Linked DNA regions of Homo sapiens: region 1 is linked to region 2. Evidence: fine-mapped expression QTL. Tissue or cell type: whole blood. Region 2 holds a variant in brackets; the other region holds the start of a gene. All regions are shown on one strand. Distances are from middle to middle.

Region 1 (8,104 bases), 270 kb after region 2:
TGAGCATCTAGTGCTATAAAGGAGAAGAAAGCATTTTGGGAAACCAAAAGGCTCTGTGTGGAACCAGGGCCTCACTATAAAATTGGAACATTGGCTTTGTGAATTGCAATTAGTTGGTAAGAAGCTCCACTCTCGATTTTATTGTGCACAGGTATTAATTATCTCTGCGGGCTGCAATGTTGTGAGCACCAAGCTTGGTTATTAGAAGCCAGGTCTTTGTGTGTTTGAAACTCTACTGCAGCTCATCACCTTTGTGACCTTGGGCAAGCTGCTTGGGCTCTAGGGGCCTCTGTTTACCCAACTGTGAAATGGGGTTGTCACATCAGCCTCATTGGGTTGTTATGAGGGCTATGAGTCAGGCTTGGGCAAGTAGCTAGGTTGAGTGGATCATCCAGGATATATTTATTGTATTTCTATTGTATATCAGGGCCTGTGTGCTGGGTCCTGGGGATATGATGATGAGAGCCTCACAGAGCTCCCAACTGAGTGAAGAGACAGATGTTAATCAAATAATCACATATGAAATATAGTTCCAAATGGGGAGTCCCCAAGGAGGGCACGCTGGAGCTGACATCTGGAGGTTGCCTAGAAGTTAACAGGGAAAAGAAGTGGGACTGGGTGAGGGGAGGAGCAGGACACATCTGTCCCAGGAAAAGCAAGGAGGCCTGTATGGCAGGAGCATGCTGAGCAAGGGCAGAGAGGGTGGTGGGAGAAGAGGCTGCAGCAGCGGCCAGCTTGTGGAGTTTCATCTTCTTTCTCAGAGCCATAGTAGCTAGCTGTGCGTCTGAAGCATGGAAGGGTCTTGTTTGGAACTTTTATCTTGGAAGACCACATCGGTGCAGTGTGGGGAACAGATTAGTGGACCCTAGAGCTTTCCAGGCAAGGCCGATCCAGGGACCCACGTGGGGATGCAGAAACGGGGACAGATTCTGGTGAAATTTAGGAAATGAAATCACTGGGAGTTGACGATGGATTGGTTATGGGATGTAAGGGAAAAGGAAGTGTCCAGGGTCACAGTTGATTCTCAGTGTGTACCTGGGTGAAAGATGGGCCAAACTAAGGAGGGGTGGGTTTGGAGGGTGGCAATACTAGGAGCTCAGTCTTAGACATGCTGCTTCGGTTTGGTAGAATTTGGCCTGTGGGTGGGGACAGTGATCCAAGAGGGGGCAGTGCATGAGCAAAGGCAGGGAGGAGGGTTGGTCATGCTTGGGGGTGCAAGGAAATGGAACAGACTGCACTGCAGGCGGTTCTCCTTGGTGTTAGGTGGCTGCCCCTGAGATGGGTTTGGGGTTATCCAGGGGCCACAGGCTATGCCCAGCAATGGCAGCCACCTGGGTTAATGCTGCCTGGGTTAATGACCAGGGAGGGAGGGTGAGTGAGTGACAGGGTGTCAGGGGAGCCCGCCCCTTGCACAATGGCACACATGGCCTCCAGAGCTGATAGGGAGGGGCCTCATTAGGGTTTGGCTCTGCTCCATGTGGGGCTGGGGGCTACAGGGAGAGCCCTGCCACCCAGATGTGGGTAAAAGGCAGGAAAGGGGATAGAGGGGTGGGCGATTACCAGGATGAGGGCTCCTGGTTCTAGCCCTGGCTACGCCAGATATTCACAAGCTGACCTTGGGAACGTCCACTCATTCATTCATTCATTCATTCACAGAACACATTCATCAGCCATAAACAGTGTGCCAGGCTTCAGGAAAGATATTAAGATCTAGCCTTTAGAGGAGACCAGAGACTTATACCTAAGTAGCAGCAATAGTTGTAGTAGCAATAATAAAATAGCTCAATACATGACTGTGTTCTGGCTCCCCCGCTCTACCCTTGGTAGGCATCATGTCATTGAATCTTTATAGCAGCCCCTGTGGGGTGGCTACTCTTCTTATCCCTGTTTTACAGATGAAGAAACTGAGGCTTAGAGACGTGAAGCCTCAAAGGTCAGGGCCAGCAGGAGATGGGGCTGGGATTTGAACCCAGGTCCACAGTGACTCTGAGATTTTTTTCTCTCCTACATGGGTGGTTCCCAAATCTGGCTGCTTATCAGAATTACCTGGAGGGCTTTTTGGACAATACAGAGGCCTGTTTTTTTTCCTCTTTCTTTTTGTTTCCTGACTCAGAGTCTCTGGGTCCTGGGTGGGGCCAGTGTTGGGAGCCTCTTGTGCTCCTGTGCCCGCTTTTCTGTGAAGCTCCTGCTTCTCCCGCTTGACTCGCTCTGCCCCGGGTACACAGGCCTTGCTGTTCTCAGGGAAAGCCCGCTGGCTCCCCCACCTTGGCCTTTCCACTTGCCCTCCCAGAACACTCTGCCCCAAACCTTCTTGTGGCTTGCTTTTGACCCCTCTTCCTTCCAGTGCCTTATTTGAATGTCACCTCCTCATAGAGACCTTCCTGACCGTCCTATAACCCTTCTCCTCCAACCCATTACTCTTGGCCCCATGTGTTCTCTACCAGGGCCAGTCACCTGGGACACTTAAAATGTCTGATGCCCAGAGACTGACTCTGTTGGCCTGGGGTGAGCCCCAGGCTTCAGTGCCACCTGGCCTGGGACACGGATCGTCACCCAGTCTCATTGTTCACAGCTCTCTCCTTGAAATTATACATGTGCTTGCTTATTGTCCATGTCTCTGCTAGAGTGGAGAGCAGGGGACTGGCCTGTCTTCGGCCCTGCCATATTCCCAGGTGATTTAAAAGCACCCGCCACACAGTAGGAGCTCAGTGAGTACCTACGAATGAAGGAATGGGATGGTGGGGCTTGAGGAAAGATAGCTCGACTGACCATCAGGATCGATCTGTTCCCAACATCTGGTGAACCCTTGGAGGGTTCTTACAACAAGGGAAAGTTTACCTGATCCGCCAGGTTCACACCTCCATGCTGCCCCGAACATCCCACTCTGGCTGCAGGACCACCTCGGGGTGAGGACGGTGGGTTGAGATGGCAGGAATCACCACGGTCTCCCTGAGATTCAGGTTGCACATTGGCAGAGTCAGAGCTGGAAGGGCAGGAGTGGTGTTGAGTCTGAGCTCTCACCGTGCACATGGGCCCTGAGGCCTAGTGAGGGAAGGAGCCTCGGCTAAGGTCAGGCCGTGGTTGAAGAGGGCCTAGAGGGTAGGAGCTACAGCATGCTGTGTGACCTTGGCCAAGCCTCTGACCTTCTCTGTGCTTTAGTCTCCCCATCTGTACCTGCAGGGCCTGGGCTGAGATGATCCCAAGCCCAGGACGTCAGGAGTTTGTTCCCTGAGTCCTTTCCTGGGCAGCGCTGACTGCGGAGGGCTTGCAAGGGGTTAAGCTCCTCCAGCTCTTGCTCTGCACGCAGACAAACCCCCTCCTTCTGACAAACACTTGTAGGAAATCAGGCTGGGCGCTTCCTGCCGAGGCGAGGCGGCCTCAACCACGGCAGGGGCGGGGAGAGGTGGGGAGCGATGCTGGTCTGTGAGCAGCAGCTTGGGCTGGCAGAACGGCCTGGAGGTGGGCCAGGGCGCAATGGAGACAGGGGGCTCCCTGGGTTTGGAACAAAGAATTCACAGGCAGGTCCCCTGAAACTGGGTCGGCAGGACGGTGGTGGAGCCCGAGAGAGGTAAGGGATTGGAACGGAGGAGGGCCCGGGAGGCCGCTTTCCTTCTGGACGGGCCAGTCACAGACTCTCCGGGACAGTCCAGGCAGCCGGACCAGCCCAGCCAGGAAGTTGCAGCTGCTGGAGCTGCACCGCTTTTCTCTTGGCTTAGGGGATCCCGGCCTCCAGGGCAAGGGTGGATTTAAGGAGGATTTCGTCAAGCCTCAGGATGCTAGATTCCAGTCCTAGCTCTGATTCTGATCTCTTGTGAACTTGGGTAGGCGGGTCCATCTCTGTGCCTGGGGTGTCGTCGTCTGCACCTGGAGAGTTAGTGTCCTTGGTTGCTAAGGGGTCTCAGAGACGATGCAGGCATGGGCAGCAGGCCAGGAGGCAGCGACGGCGCCGGGGGGTGGTCCCTATTGAAGGAGTGGCCCCTTATGCCAGCTGCGTAAGAGCAAGGAGAGGAGCCAAGGACAGTCCGAGGACCAGCAGACCCAGCTCAGCTCTTGAGGATGGCAAGACCAGAGCTGGCAACAGCCAGGGCACCGTTTCTCTTTCTCCTCGGCCTCTGCTGCTGGAGCGGGCTGGGGGCAGGGAGGACACAGAGAGGGAGTGGCTGGTGCTTCCTTGTGGGACTAGAGTCCACACAGCTGGTGGGAACCCCTTGAGAACAGCAAGTCTGTGCCCTGCCAGCAGGTGGGTGGGGGTATGGTTGAGCCTTTTTGGAAGGTCTGGTTACTGATTTGGGGGGTGGTCTTCCTTCCCCATCTCCCTGACACATCTGACAGCCTTGGTTTCAGAGTTGCGGTACCCCAGCTTTGAATCCTCTGTCTGCGCTTCCTGGCTGTGAGGTCTTGTGAGAGCAGGCCATGTCTCTGTGCCTCAGTGTCTTCATCTGGGAGGTGTCAGGGTGTGGGTGGGGGTAGAAGCAGGGTGGCACCCTGGACAGCTCTGGCTGGATGGGAAGGGGCTGCAGAGGGCACGGGGAGGCTGTGCGGGCTGCGTAGCTGTGCTGGCAAAGGAGAGCCTGGGCGTCTGGGCAGTTCTGAGGGATTGAGCCATAAAGGGAAGGGTCCCTGGCTGTGGAATGACTGAGCGGGCGGAGAAGCCCTGTGTGGGTGGTGGGGAAGAAGAGTCCATCCCACCCAGGAACTGAAGATAGACACCTCAGGGGTCTGTTAGACCCTTGAGAGAGCAGGGGCAGTGGCGGCTTGGGTGTAAGAAGGAGATGTGCAGAAGGAGGGTGCAGTGGCTGCTACTTCCTTGTGGGGCCAGTTTCTCCAGGGATGGCGGGGACCCTGAACTCCATAGCCCTCCCCAGCTCACACTGCTGGAGTCTTCACCAAACCCCACTCACTGCCTTTTAGGAGCAGCCCTGCTGCCCTAACGAGGGCTGGCTGGAACAACTCTGCCTTTATCTGGCATGCAGGGACACCTGCCCATAGCTCTCCTTCAAGGTCAGGCCATACTTTCAGACCTACGTGCCTTTGCCTCCGTGCTGTTCCCGCTGCCTGGAATGCCCTCCCCAGTCTTCTCCCCCAAATCCTCATTGTTTCTCAAGCCCACCTTAAAGCTTCCTTTGGTAACACTTCTGTATTGTACTACCCCCCACCGTTTAAAATCTTGGAACACTTTTACTCTTTTCTATATTCTTTGCATCTTACGTAGCGCCTGGTATATAGTAGGAAGTCATAGGGCTTTTTTAAAAAGTTAATTTGCGCCCACTGGGTGCTCAGTATGTATCTTTGTACTTTGAAATGTGACCTCAGGGAGGAGGAGAGAGGTTAACAGTTCTGAGGCTGTTGCCCTTAGAAGCTGAGTCAATCAGGGACTTCAAAGCTCTTTGAGTCCCATACCCTGCCTCCCAACCCACCCTAGCAGGGTGATATCCCCTTGCGATATCAAGAGCAGGTGGTACTTTCTCTATTTTACAGTGAGGAAAATGCAAGCCCAGCTATACACAGTGAGTAACAGCAGCCAGGACTAGCACCTGTCTCCTGATGCCCAGCCTGCTTCTCTATCACAGCATCGTCCCAGCCTGAGGTTGGCAGGTAGTTGGCACTAACGTGTGTTTGTTGACTGACTAGCTGACTGGCCAGTTCTGGGGCTTTGTGGTGAGGAGGGCCATGGCTCGCATGGAAGGCAGAGGCCTGGCTCAGGAAAGGCTCACTGGTTTAGGCGCCTGGGGGCAAGTGCGAAACTCTAGTCAGTCACTGCAGCTGCCTCTGACGTGCACCTTCCCCTGGTTACAGTGAGATTTCTGCCACGACTGAGTCATCCCAGAAGACAGGATGTTCCTCTTTGTGCACCCAGAGGGCTCTGTGATTGGGCAGGCTGCTCTGTGGCAGAGCTAGAAAAAAAGCCCTTTAAAAAGTCAAAAAACCGCACACCTCCCCCGGCCCCTTCCTCAGCAGAGGCTTCAGAATCAGAAAAGCAACAGCTAAATTGTAGCCTCTTCTCCACCTGCCATAACAGCAGGAGCCAGGAGGCCTAGTGAACTTCAAAGGGCAGGCCCTGCCTGAGGCCCTGGTTTAAAATGCAGATTCCTGGGCCCTATCCCAGGGCCACTGAGTCAGGCTCTCTGCAGGTTGTTTCAGGAAACTGCACGCTTAGAGGATTCTTAAGCACACTGAAGCTTAAGATCCCTGGCAGGGATTTCCAAGAAGGGTACAGGCCCTGCAGAAGGTATGAGAAGCAAGGATTAGAGCTTCTATTTAAAATATAGTTGACCAGCTGGGTGGGTGGCTCATGCTTGTAATCCCAGCACATAGGGAGGCCGAGGCAGGAGGATCATTTGAAACAAGGAGTTCAAAACCAGCCTGGGCAACGTGGCAAAACCCCATCTCGACAAAAAAAAATTTTTAAAATTAGCCAGGCATGGTGGCGCATACCTGTGGTCTTAGCTACTCAGGAGGCCGAGGTGGGAGGATCGCTTGAGCCCAGGTGGTCAAGGCTACAGTGAGCTCTGATTGCCATTGTACTCCAGCCTGGGTAACAGTGAGACCCTGTCTCAATAAAATAAAATACAGTTGATCCTTGAATAATACAGGGGTTAGGAGTGCCTCATGCAGTCAAAAATCTGCTTATAACTTTTAACTCCCCCAAAACTTTATCAATAGCCTGCTATTGACTGGAAGCTTTGCTGATAACATAAACAGTTGGTTAATGCATATTTTCTGTCTTATATGTATTATGTACTGTTTTCTTACAATAAAGTAAGCCAGAGAAAAGAAAATGTTATTAAGGAAATCATAAGGAAGAGAAAATCTACTTACTTTCATTAAGTGGAAGTGGATCATCATAAAGGCCTACATCCTTGTCATCTTCACATTGAGGAGGAGGAGTTAAGGGGGAGATTGATCTACTGTCTTAGGGGTGGCAGAGGCAGAAGAAAATTCACATATAGGTAGACCTGTGTGGTTCAAACTGTCATTAAGGGTCACCTGTATATATTTTCTTTTTCCTTTTTATTTTTAGTAGAGACAGGCTTTTGCCACGTTGCCCAAGCTGGTCTCAAACTCCTGAGCTCAAGTGATCTGCCCACCTCGGCCTCCCAAAGTGCTGGGATTGCAGGTGTGAGCCGCTGTACCTGGCCCATTTTCGATTGCATCTTTTTAGAAGATCACTTTTGAAAATACTCTTTCCAATACATGTAATATATTAGCGTGATGTGTTCGAGCAAATATATTTTTACTGATGGATTGTGTGATTAAAAAAATATTGGGGTACCACTAGGCCAGAATTGACAGTTGCAAATCTTGCTGTGGCAGGAAGTAGCTGGGTGATCTTAGCCAAATTCTACCCTCATGTTTGTAGGAGGGCAGATTGAGAATTTAAAAGTAAAGCTTCAACCCAGGCTGGCGCCGAGTGGGCTCTTCACATGTGGTAGGGACTGTGGGGCTGGAGGACAATACACAGGGTGATCTGGAGGAAATTGTAGGGCTCTGCATTTGGGGGTAGAGAGGAAGACTGGGCGGGGACAGAGGATAGAAGCCCCGAACACCCATCCACAGAGCAGGAGTCGCAGCCAAGGAGGGAAGAATGGTATTCCCTGCACCTCCCTCCTCCAGCCCTTGAGAAGTCAGCCTTTCCCGGGCTGCACTGTTCCCTGGGGAACTTTGTGTCCAAAAATAGTTGCCTGCTGACTTTTCTCAGCCACACAAATCAAGCAGGATCCAAGTGTTCATGAGGATAAAGGGACAAACACAGACCTTCTGTCCTGGGAGGCCTGGAGTCATACTGCCTTCAACACAGCATGCAGGGGAGAAAGCCCAGACTGTGGGCCAGGAGGCTGACTTTCACCCCTGCCTTGTCCTGACCCCTGTGTGGCTTTAGGCAAGGCCTCTCCCCTCTCTGGATCCCAGTTTCCCCATCTGTGGAAGAAGGCCTTTGTGTGAGCTGCTCTGGGGGCCGCTGCACTGATGGGCTGCAGTTCTCTGAACCCTCCATGGCAGGGAGCTCCCTGGGGGACCGTGCCCACTCTGGGTCAGCTTTGCACTTCCTGGGCCTGGCTCAGTGCTGGCATAGAGGAAGCGCTTAGGGAAATAGCAGGAGCGTCAG
Region 2 (8,104 bases):
ATAATATATTGCCCACTGTGCAGGCTGTTAGGAGGATGAAGGCAGGCACCGTGTGTAAGTGAATGCATATGGCCCCACACAAAGAAGACATTCAACAAGGCCGGGCACGGTGGCTCACGCCTGTAATCCCAGCACTTTGGGAGACTGAGGCGGGCAGATCACGAGGTCAGGAGATCGAGACCATCCTGGCTAACACGGTGAAACCCCGTCTCTACTAAAAATACAAAAAATTAGCGGGGCATGGTGGTGGGCGCCTGTAGTCCCAGCTACTCAGGAGGCTGAGGCAGGAGAATGGAGTGAACCGAGGAGGCGGAGCTTGCAGTGAGCCGAGATCGCGCCACTGCACTCCAGCCTGAGCGACAGAGCGAGACTCCACCTCAAAACAAAAAAAAAGACATTCAACAAATGATATCTGTGGATGTGTATAAGGATCAGCTGGGCCACGCTGAGGTAATGAGTAAACTCTAAAATCTCCATTGCTTCACCCAGCTCGAGATCATTCTTAGCTCATACAAGCAAACTTTTATTTTTAAAGAGATTAATGATTTGAGGAGTCTCTGAGTGGAGTATGGCCAAGATAGGTTATACGCGCATCACTCAAAGCCTTTACCCAGGATAAGTTTATTCCTCTGTTCTTTCAGATCTGAACACAAATTCTCTCCACAGTGCTGTACCAAAAAGACATCCACGCCTCCCCTATGACAACCGCATGATGCTCAAGGCGTGCATCCTTAGGAGGCCATGAGCATTCTAGCCGGCGGCACCCACGTGGTCCCTGCGGCTGCACAGCTGCTGGGCTTCCATGAGGAAGAGGGCAGTGGACAAGAGTCATGAAGACTGATTCAGAAACTCCCCTGCAGGAGGAGAAGACGTCTGAGCCATCCCTGTGCCACCACCAAGAGTCACTCCAGCTTCTGAAAAAGCCACCGTGGGGGGGAGCCGCCTCCAATTAAAGTCCTTGGTCACATCAGAGGAAGTGTCTCTCCTCCTTCCCCCTTTGCCAGCCCTACCTCTGAGATTCCCAAAAACATGGAGCAATTAGACCCTGGCACCTCTTGGAAAGAAATGTGGTTTTGTCATTTTAACGCATTAACACATTTGTTTCAGTCACTCCTAACCAACCTAACAGGGAAGTGCTATATTAGGAGAGGCCAGTTTGTATAACAGGCCACTGTCATAAACGTCCAGAGCTTCAGGGCACAATTCTGCTTGCCTACTGTGCGACTCCATTTGACGCTCAGGGCCATAGGGAACAGCAGGGCATGTTGTGAAAAACTCTACAAACAGCAGCCCTAGAGTTATGCAATGCGTAGCCAGTGCTGATACGCAGCACCGCTTGTGCTGAAACACGGAGTATGCAACTGTGAGTAATATGCAGAAGACCCCACATGGTTTCCACATTAGCCAGGGAGCCAGGCATGGAAGTGTATCACTCTGACATAATAGGGCAAAAACTTGGAAAGCAAAATGACAAAGGAGCATTTTGCAACTGACTCGGGGATTAATGGAAGGCTTCCTGGAGGCGATGGTGCTTGAAGGGAAGTTAGCTAAAAGGAGAAGGGATGATATTCCAGAAGGAGGGAATACAATCAGCAAAGTTGGAAAATAGGGGCACGACCTGGGAGGGCATGAGGGTAGCAAAGTACCAAGTCTAGAATGACTCAAGTGAAAACCTGAGCCAGGGTTTGGTGGGAGGTGAAGTGGGCAGAGCATCAAGAGCTTTGTATCCAGGGAAAAGGAGCTGAACTCTATCTTGAAAATAATGGGAAGCCACAGGTGAGTTTTAAGCAACAAAGTGACACAGCCTGATTTCCAACTTTTGTACTATGAACAGTGCCTTAGTCTGTTCAGACTACTAAAATAAGATACCATAACCGGGTGACTTACAAACAACAGAAGTTTATTTCTCACAGTTTTGGAGGCTGGGAAGTCCAAGATCAAAACTCCAGCAGCATCAGTGTCTGGTGAGGGCCTGTTCCTCATAGAGGGCGCTTCTTGCTGTGTTCTCACATAGCAGAAGGGGCAAGGGGTCTCTCTCAGGCTCTTTCATAAGGGCACTAATCTCAATCGTGAGGGCTCTGCTCTCATGACCTAATCCTCCTAAACCTCCCAAAGACCACAATTCTTATACCATCACCTTGGGAGTTAAGATTTCAACACATGAATTTGGGGGAACATTAACATTCAGACCATAACAAACAAGGCGAGTTGGAAGACAACACTTTTTTTGTTTGTTTGTCTGTTTGTCTGAGACGGAGTCTTGCTCTGTCACCCAGCCTGGAGGGCAGTGGCATGATCTTGGCTGGCTGCAACCTCCACCTCCCAGGTTCAAGGATTCTCCTGCCTCAGCCTCCCAAGTAGCTACAGGAAAGTGCCACCACACCCAGCTAATTTTTTTTTTTAATTTTTTTTTTGAGACGGAGTTTCTCTTTCGTTGCCCAGGCTGGAGTGCAATGGCACACTTTCGGCTCACAGCAACCTCTGCCTCCCGGGTTCAAGCGATTCTCCTGCCTCAGCCTCCTGAGTAGCTGGGATTACAGGCACCCTCCACCATGCCTGGCTAATTTTGTATTTTTAGTAGAGACAGGGTTTCTCCATGTTGATCAGGCTGGTCTCCAACTCCTGACCTCAGGTGATCCGCCCGCCTCAGCCTCCCAAAACGCTGGGATTACAGGCGTGAGCTACCGCGCCCGGCCTAATTTTTGTATTTTTAGTAGAGACGGGGTTTTGCCATTTTGTTCAGGCTGGTCTTAAACTCCTGACCTCAGGTGATCCGCCCATCTCAACCTCCCAAAGTCCTGGGATTACAGGCGTGAGCCACTACACCCGGCCAGAAGACAATTTATTAATTAGCACTCCTTATGCCTTCCCCACCTCAGAAAAGAGAAGAATAAAGGAATATGATGTCTATGCCATGGCAATGTGGAGTAAAATTCATACCTTCAATGAAAAGCCCATCCTGGCTATAATGTGAAGGATGGATTTTGTTTTGTTTTGTTTTGTTTTTTGAGACGGAGTCTCGCTCTGTCATCCAGGCTGGAGTGCAGTGGTGCGATCTCAGCTCACTGCAACCTCCACCTCTCGGGTTCAAGCGATTCTCCTGCCTCAGCCTCCCAAGTAGCTAGGACTACAGGCGCATGCCACCACGATTTGAGTGTAATAGTAATCACAATAGACAGCCTGGTTCCTTGCTTACTCTGTGCCAGATCCTCTTCCAAGTGCTTCATAAATATCAACCCAATCAGCACAATAACCCAACAAGGTTAGAACTGTTACTACCTGATTTTACAGATTAGGGAAGTGAGACACAGGTTAAATAAATCTTTTAAGGTTTACACTAACTCACATTAAGTGCCAGAGCTAAGACTTTAACTCAAGAAACCCAACTGCAGAGTCCACACTCTTAACAACTTGGTTATGCGGCCCCTCGATAATGGTAGAATGACATTCAGTTATTACTCTGGACCCCAAATTTACTGTTCATCGCCTGCTCTTCAAAAATGGAGCTGGCCCTTTAAATATTTTTCTTTTGGTAGTTGGTGCAATGCTAGGCTCTGTCAGGAGGGGGAGCTAGAGACATTGGAGGAGGAAGAGGCCTTCCTTTCTGGTTGTGCTGGGCTCATCTTAACAGCACAGAGCTCACAGCTTCTCCAACATCACCCTCCCGCAGTGCAGGCAACTTTTCCAGAACAGGAATCCTGCAGAGGATGGTGGTCAGTAGCACTTGGCAACTAGCAGCTTCTCCTAGTGCCCCCACAAATAGGTGTGCCTCTAATCAGACACTGTTCCATGACAGCTTTCCCTGGCACCCAAGGGCAGACTTCTAGAACATTCTCCCAGACTTCTCTGCCATTGTGAGGCACAGCCATGCCCTTCCCAGCAACATCTGGATCTCAGCTGGGGATAGAGCCTGGGGGTGTTCTTTCTTAGTTCTAGGGGTGCTGGCTGCTCCTTATGTCCATTATTCCTATATTCTTTAAAGCTCTCCTGACTTCTTACCACTCCTTCATTACTCCAATCCCCTGTTCTAGTTAGTACTTATATTAATCTTCTCATATTCAAATTGTTATGTGGTTTCTGTCTCCCAAGTGGATCATGACTAATGCAGAAATCAAAT[T/G]AAGAGGCTGGGCTTATGTCTGTGGCCCCAGAAATACAGGAGGCAGAGGCAGGAGTATCACTTGAGGCCAGGAGTTTGAGATCAGCCTGGGCAACACAGCAAGACCCGATCTCTACCAAAACAAAACAAAACAAATTAAGCGACTGCCTAGGCAATCAGGACAGACAGTGATACAGGCCTAAAGTAGGGCAGCAGCAGTCAGGATGAATAAGAGGACCTTGAGTCATATTTCTCAGGCAAAGCTGGCCAATTCTAACTCAGAACCATACAGGAAAGAAGATTCTAGGGAATGAGGTCCTTGTGGTATTGAGGCCAAGTTGACAACAACAGCAGATCACTTAATTTTGGGCTATTCCAAGCTGGAGGGGCCTATGGGACATCCAGATGACCATATTAAGAAGGTTGGCAATATTTAGCAGGAAAAGGTAAAAGAACTATAGCTGGAAGGAAGCAGAGAGGCCTACAACATGTGTGTGGAGTTGTCAGCTCACTGCATCGTGGCACCTCTTCCCCATGGGATGAGACCCCACTGGCATCTGTTGGGTGAAGATACAGTTCACTTTCCCGGACCTCATGTCCAGAGTCCTCTTCCACTGCCCATTCTCATACTGTATCCCCTGGACCCACCCTCTTACCCAGATTCCCCTTGTCCTATGCATTCCTCACCTCCTCTCATGCGAAGGTCCCACTTTCCTTCCCCAGCAAACCCCATATTCCTTATTTCTTGGACTGCTTTCTGCAACAACTGTAGCAGGTGCTTTACACAAAAAAGATGCTCCTTAAATGTCACTTCCTGCTTTGATAATTTAGAAACTCCTTCACAGAAGGGATGCAAAGAAGCCTCCATCCTGTGACTTTTTTAAAGGGCTCTCAGCCACAGGGTGACATCTTTCTTTGAAGGATTTTCAAATAGTAACAATAAAAATAATCATGGAAACCACAGCTGGATTTACTTCTGATCATGGTAAACTAGCTTGTATCAGACCAACCCTCCTGCTGACAGCAGTTTAAAAGCAATTGTTCTTTTTTCTTAAATGTGTTTGAATGCATCAGAGAGATATCAACATAGTCAGGACACGAGGGGCCAAGATGCTGAAGAGAAAAGTAGAGAGAGGAGATGAGCACCGAAGCCTTCTTATCCCCTTGAGGCACCTGCCGAGTCCTAAGCAGAGTCCAAGTAGCTGAAAAGTTGAGTAGAGCTTTCAGAAGTCTCACAGCGGCCAGGCGTGGGGGCTCACGCCTGTAATCCCAGCACTTTGGGAGGCCGAGACAGGTGGATCACAAGGTCAGGAGATCAAGACCATCCTGGCTAACACAGTGAAACCCCGTCTCTACTAAAAATACAAAAAATTAGCCGCGTGTGGTGGTGGGCGCCTGTAGTCCCAGCTACTGGGGAGGCTGAGGCAGGAGAATGGCGTGGACCTGGGAGGCGGAGCTTGCAGTGAGCCAAGATCATGCCACTGCACTCCAGCCTGGGAGACAGAGCGAGTCTCTGTCTCAAAAAAAAAAAAAAAAAAAAAAAATGTCTCACAGCTTGGGGTAACAAAAATTGGAGGTTTAGGACTCACCATGAAAGAGGAGTCCTGGTTTTATAAACACACACACACACGTTTTCAGCTAAAACCCCTGTAGGGCTACAACCTGAGAGTAAGGTTTAATCACACCTAGACTAGCTCTCACAAAGCCCAGGGTCAAGTTTATCTCAAGCCTACTTTTCCCAGAAGCAAAAGTAAATCCTGCCTGAGGGAAGATCCAGAGCCTTGTATATCTCTTCAATTTTTCAAAATTTTCATTTTTCAAAATGTCTAGCATTTAATGAAAAATTACCATGAATATCAAAAAATAAGACCAACTGACTGAAAAGCAAAAGGAAAAAAAAAAGAACCAGATATTAGAGTTTGCAGACATAAACTTTAAAAGCAGTACAATTAAATATTGAGGAGAATAGATGACAAGATTGGTAATTTCATTTGAGAACTGGAAACTATTTCTAAAAAAACAAAATTATAGAACTGAACATTATGATGGATGAAATTAAAAACTCAGGCTGGGCATGGTGGCTCACAGCTGTAATCCCAGTGCTTCAGGAGGCAGAGGCAGGAGGATTACTTGAGGCCAGAAGTTCAAGACCAGCCTGGGCAACACAGCAAAACCCCGTCTCTACAAAACATTTAAAAATTGGCCAGGCATGGTGGCACCTGCCTATAGTCCTAGCTACTTGGGAGTCTTAGGTCCCAGGAGTTTAAGGTTGCAGTGAGCTGTGATTGTGCTACTGCACTCCAGCCTGGGCAACAGAGCAAGACCCTGCCTCTTAAAAAAAAAAAAAAAGATAAAAAAATTAGAAACTGGATTGATTTTTAAATGAAACATAGGGTTAACAAAAAAACTCCATTGATAGAATTAAACACAAATGAGGGCAAGATTAATGGAGAAGACGAGTCAGTAGAAAATATCCAGGCTGAATCACAAAGAACCAAAAGAATGGAAAAATACCAAGAAGGGTCTTAGAGATATAGTGAAAAGGTCTAACACTTATCATTAGAGTCCTGAACAAGATGAGAGAGAAGAGGGTGAATGCTGTGATGAAAGATATCATGTCACAGTTTCAAGATGTGCTATGAACAAGCACAAGCAGGAAAAATACTTTAAAAGCTACAGCTAGGCACATCAGAATATAACTGCTAAAACTCAATGCAAAGAGAAAATGTTGAGAGCAGCAATGGGGCTGACAGATGACTTCTCAACAGAAGCAACAGAAACCAATGACATCTTCAAAAGGTTGAAAGAAAATAACTGCACTAACCTAGAATTCCTTACTTACCAAAAATATCTTTCAAAAATAAAAACAAAATACAGACTTCTCAGCAAACAAAAATTGAATTTGTCACCATAAGATCTGTACTGAAAGGAAAATACTAAAGGTATTTCTAAATATACTATACTAAATATGATACTATATTGAAGAAAAATTCTAAAGTTAGTTCCAGAAGCAGGATCCAAAATAGATGTATGGAAATACAGAAAGGAACAAAGGGCAATAAAATTGAAGTAACAAAGAGCAATAAAAAGTAACATGTGAATAAATCTAAATGAATATTGACTATAGAAAGCATTAATAAGAATGTCTGTTGTGGCTTAAAATACATAGAAAATTGAAATCCATGACAAGACTACCGTAACAGGTAGAAAGGTGAAAGAATTGTATAGTTGTTGGAGCCAGGCACGGTGGCTCTCACCTGTAATCCCAGCACTTTGGGAGGCTGAGGCAGGTGGATCACTTAAGGTCAGGAGATCGAGACGAGCCTGGACAACATAGTGAAACTCTGTCTCTACTAAAAATACAAAAATCATCAGGGTGTGGTGGTGCACACTTGCAATTCCAGCTACTCGGGAGGCTGAGGCGGGAGAATCACTTGAACCTGGGAGGCGGAGGTTGCAGTGAGCCAAGATCGTACCACTGCACTCTAGCCCAGGCCACAGAGGGAGACTCCGTCTCCAAAAAAAAAAAAAAAAAAAATTGTGTAGTCGCTGGGTTATCCAGGAAATGATAGAAGTGATCATGTATAATACACTTCAGTAAGTCAAGGATGCTTGTTAAATCTAGGGTAAGAACTGAAAGAAAAGTATACTTCATATGCTAATAAAGGAGAAATTACCCAAAACAAACAACCTTAATCCAAAACAAGGAAAAAAGACAGAAAAAAGAAAAGAACACAGTAACAGAAAAACCGATAGAAAGAATTATTAGTAAGATGGTACATTCAAACCTAAGTCTATCAGTAAACACATTAGATATAGTGTAGTAAATACTTTGAATTAGAAAAAAACTTAATTTCAAAAAAGCAAATCTTACATGCCTACAAGGGTGAAACCTTAAATATAAGAATGTGAAAAGGTCAAAAGTAAAAGGATGAACAAAGATATACTACGCAATGACTAATCAAAAGAAAGCTAATTTCCTCTCAGTAAGCAAGGAATAGAGAAGAA

The links. PIP is the estimated chance that this variant, and not a neighbour inherited with it, causes the effect.
Region 1: it holds the start of AKNA, and the variant in region 2 is fine-mapped to the expression of AKNA in whole blood (INTERVAL, PIP above 0.99).

Annotation. Positions count from the first base shown.
Region 1 is chr9:114,383,324-114,391,427 of GRCh38, reverse strand. It overlaps AKNA (AT-hook transcription factor), which reads left to right and starts at 3,446. Exons shown (of 22, transcript NM_001317950.2): 1 at 3,446-3,568. It overlaps LOC124902253 (a long non-coding RNA gene), which reads right to left and starts at 3,378. Exons shown (of 3, transcript XR_007061742.1): 1 at 3,175-3,378; 2 at 2,839-2,983; 3 at 1-585. RefSeq lists enhancers at 3,154-3,443, 3,484-3,613, 3,084-3,819, 4,634-4,783, 5,554-5,613 and 3 more.
Region 2 is chr9:114,649,170-114,657,273 of GRCh38, reverse strand. TEX53 (testis expressed 53) reads left to right here. Exons shown (of 2, transcript NM_001354645.2): 2 at 642-970. The coding sequence ends at 745. Among named protein-coding and RNA genes, the nearest start is that of TEX53, 4.6 kb to the left of the region's middle. RefSeq lists enhancers at 3,461-3,540, 3,551-3,600, 3,428-3,934. The variant T/G (reference allele first, on the strand shown) is at 4,118.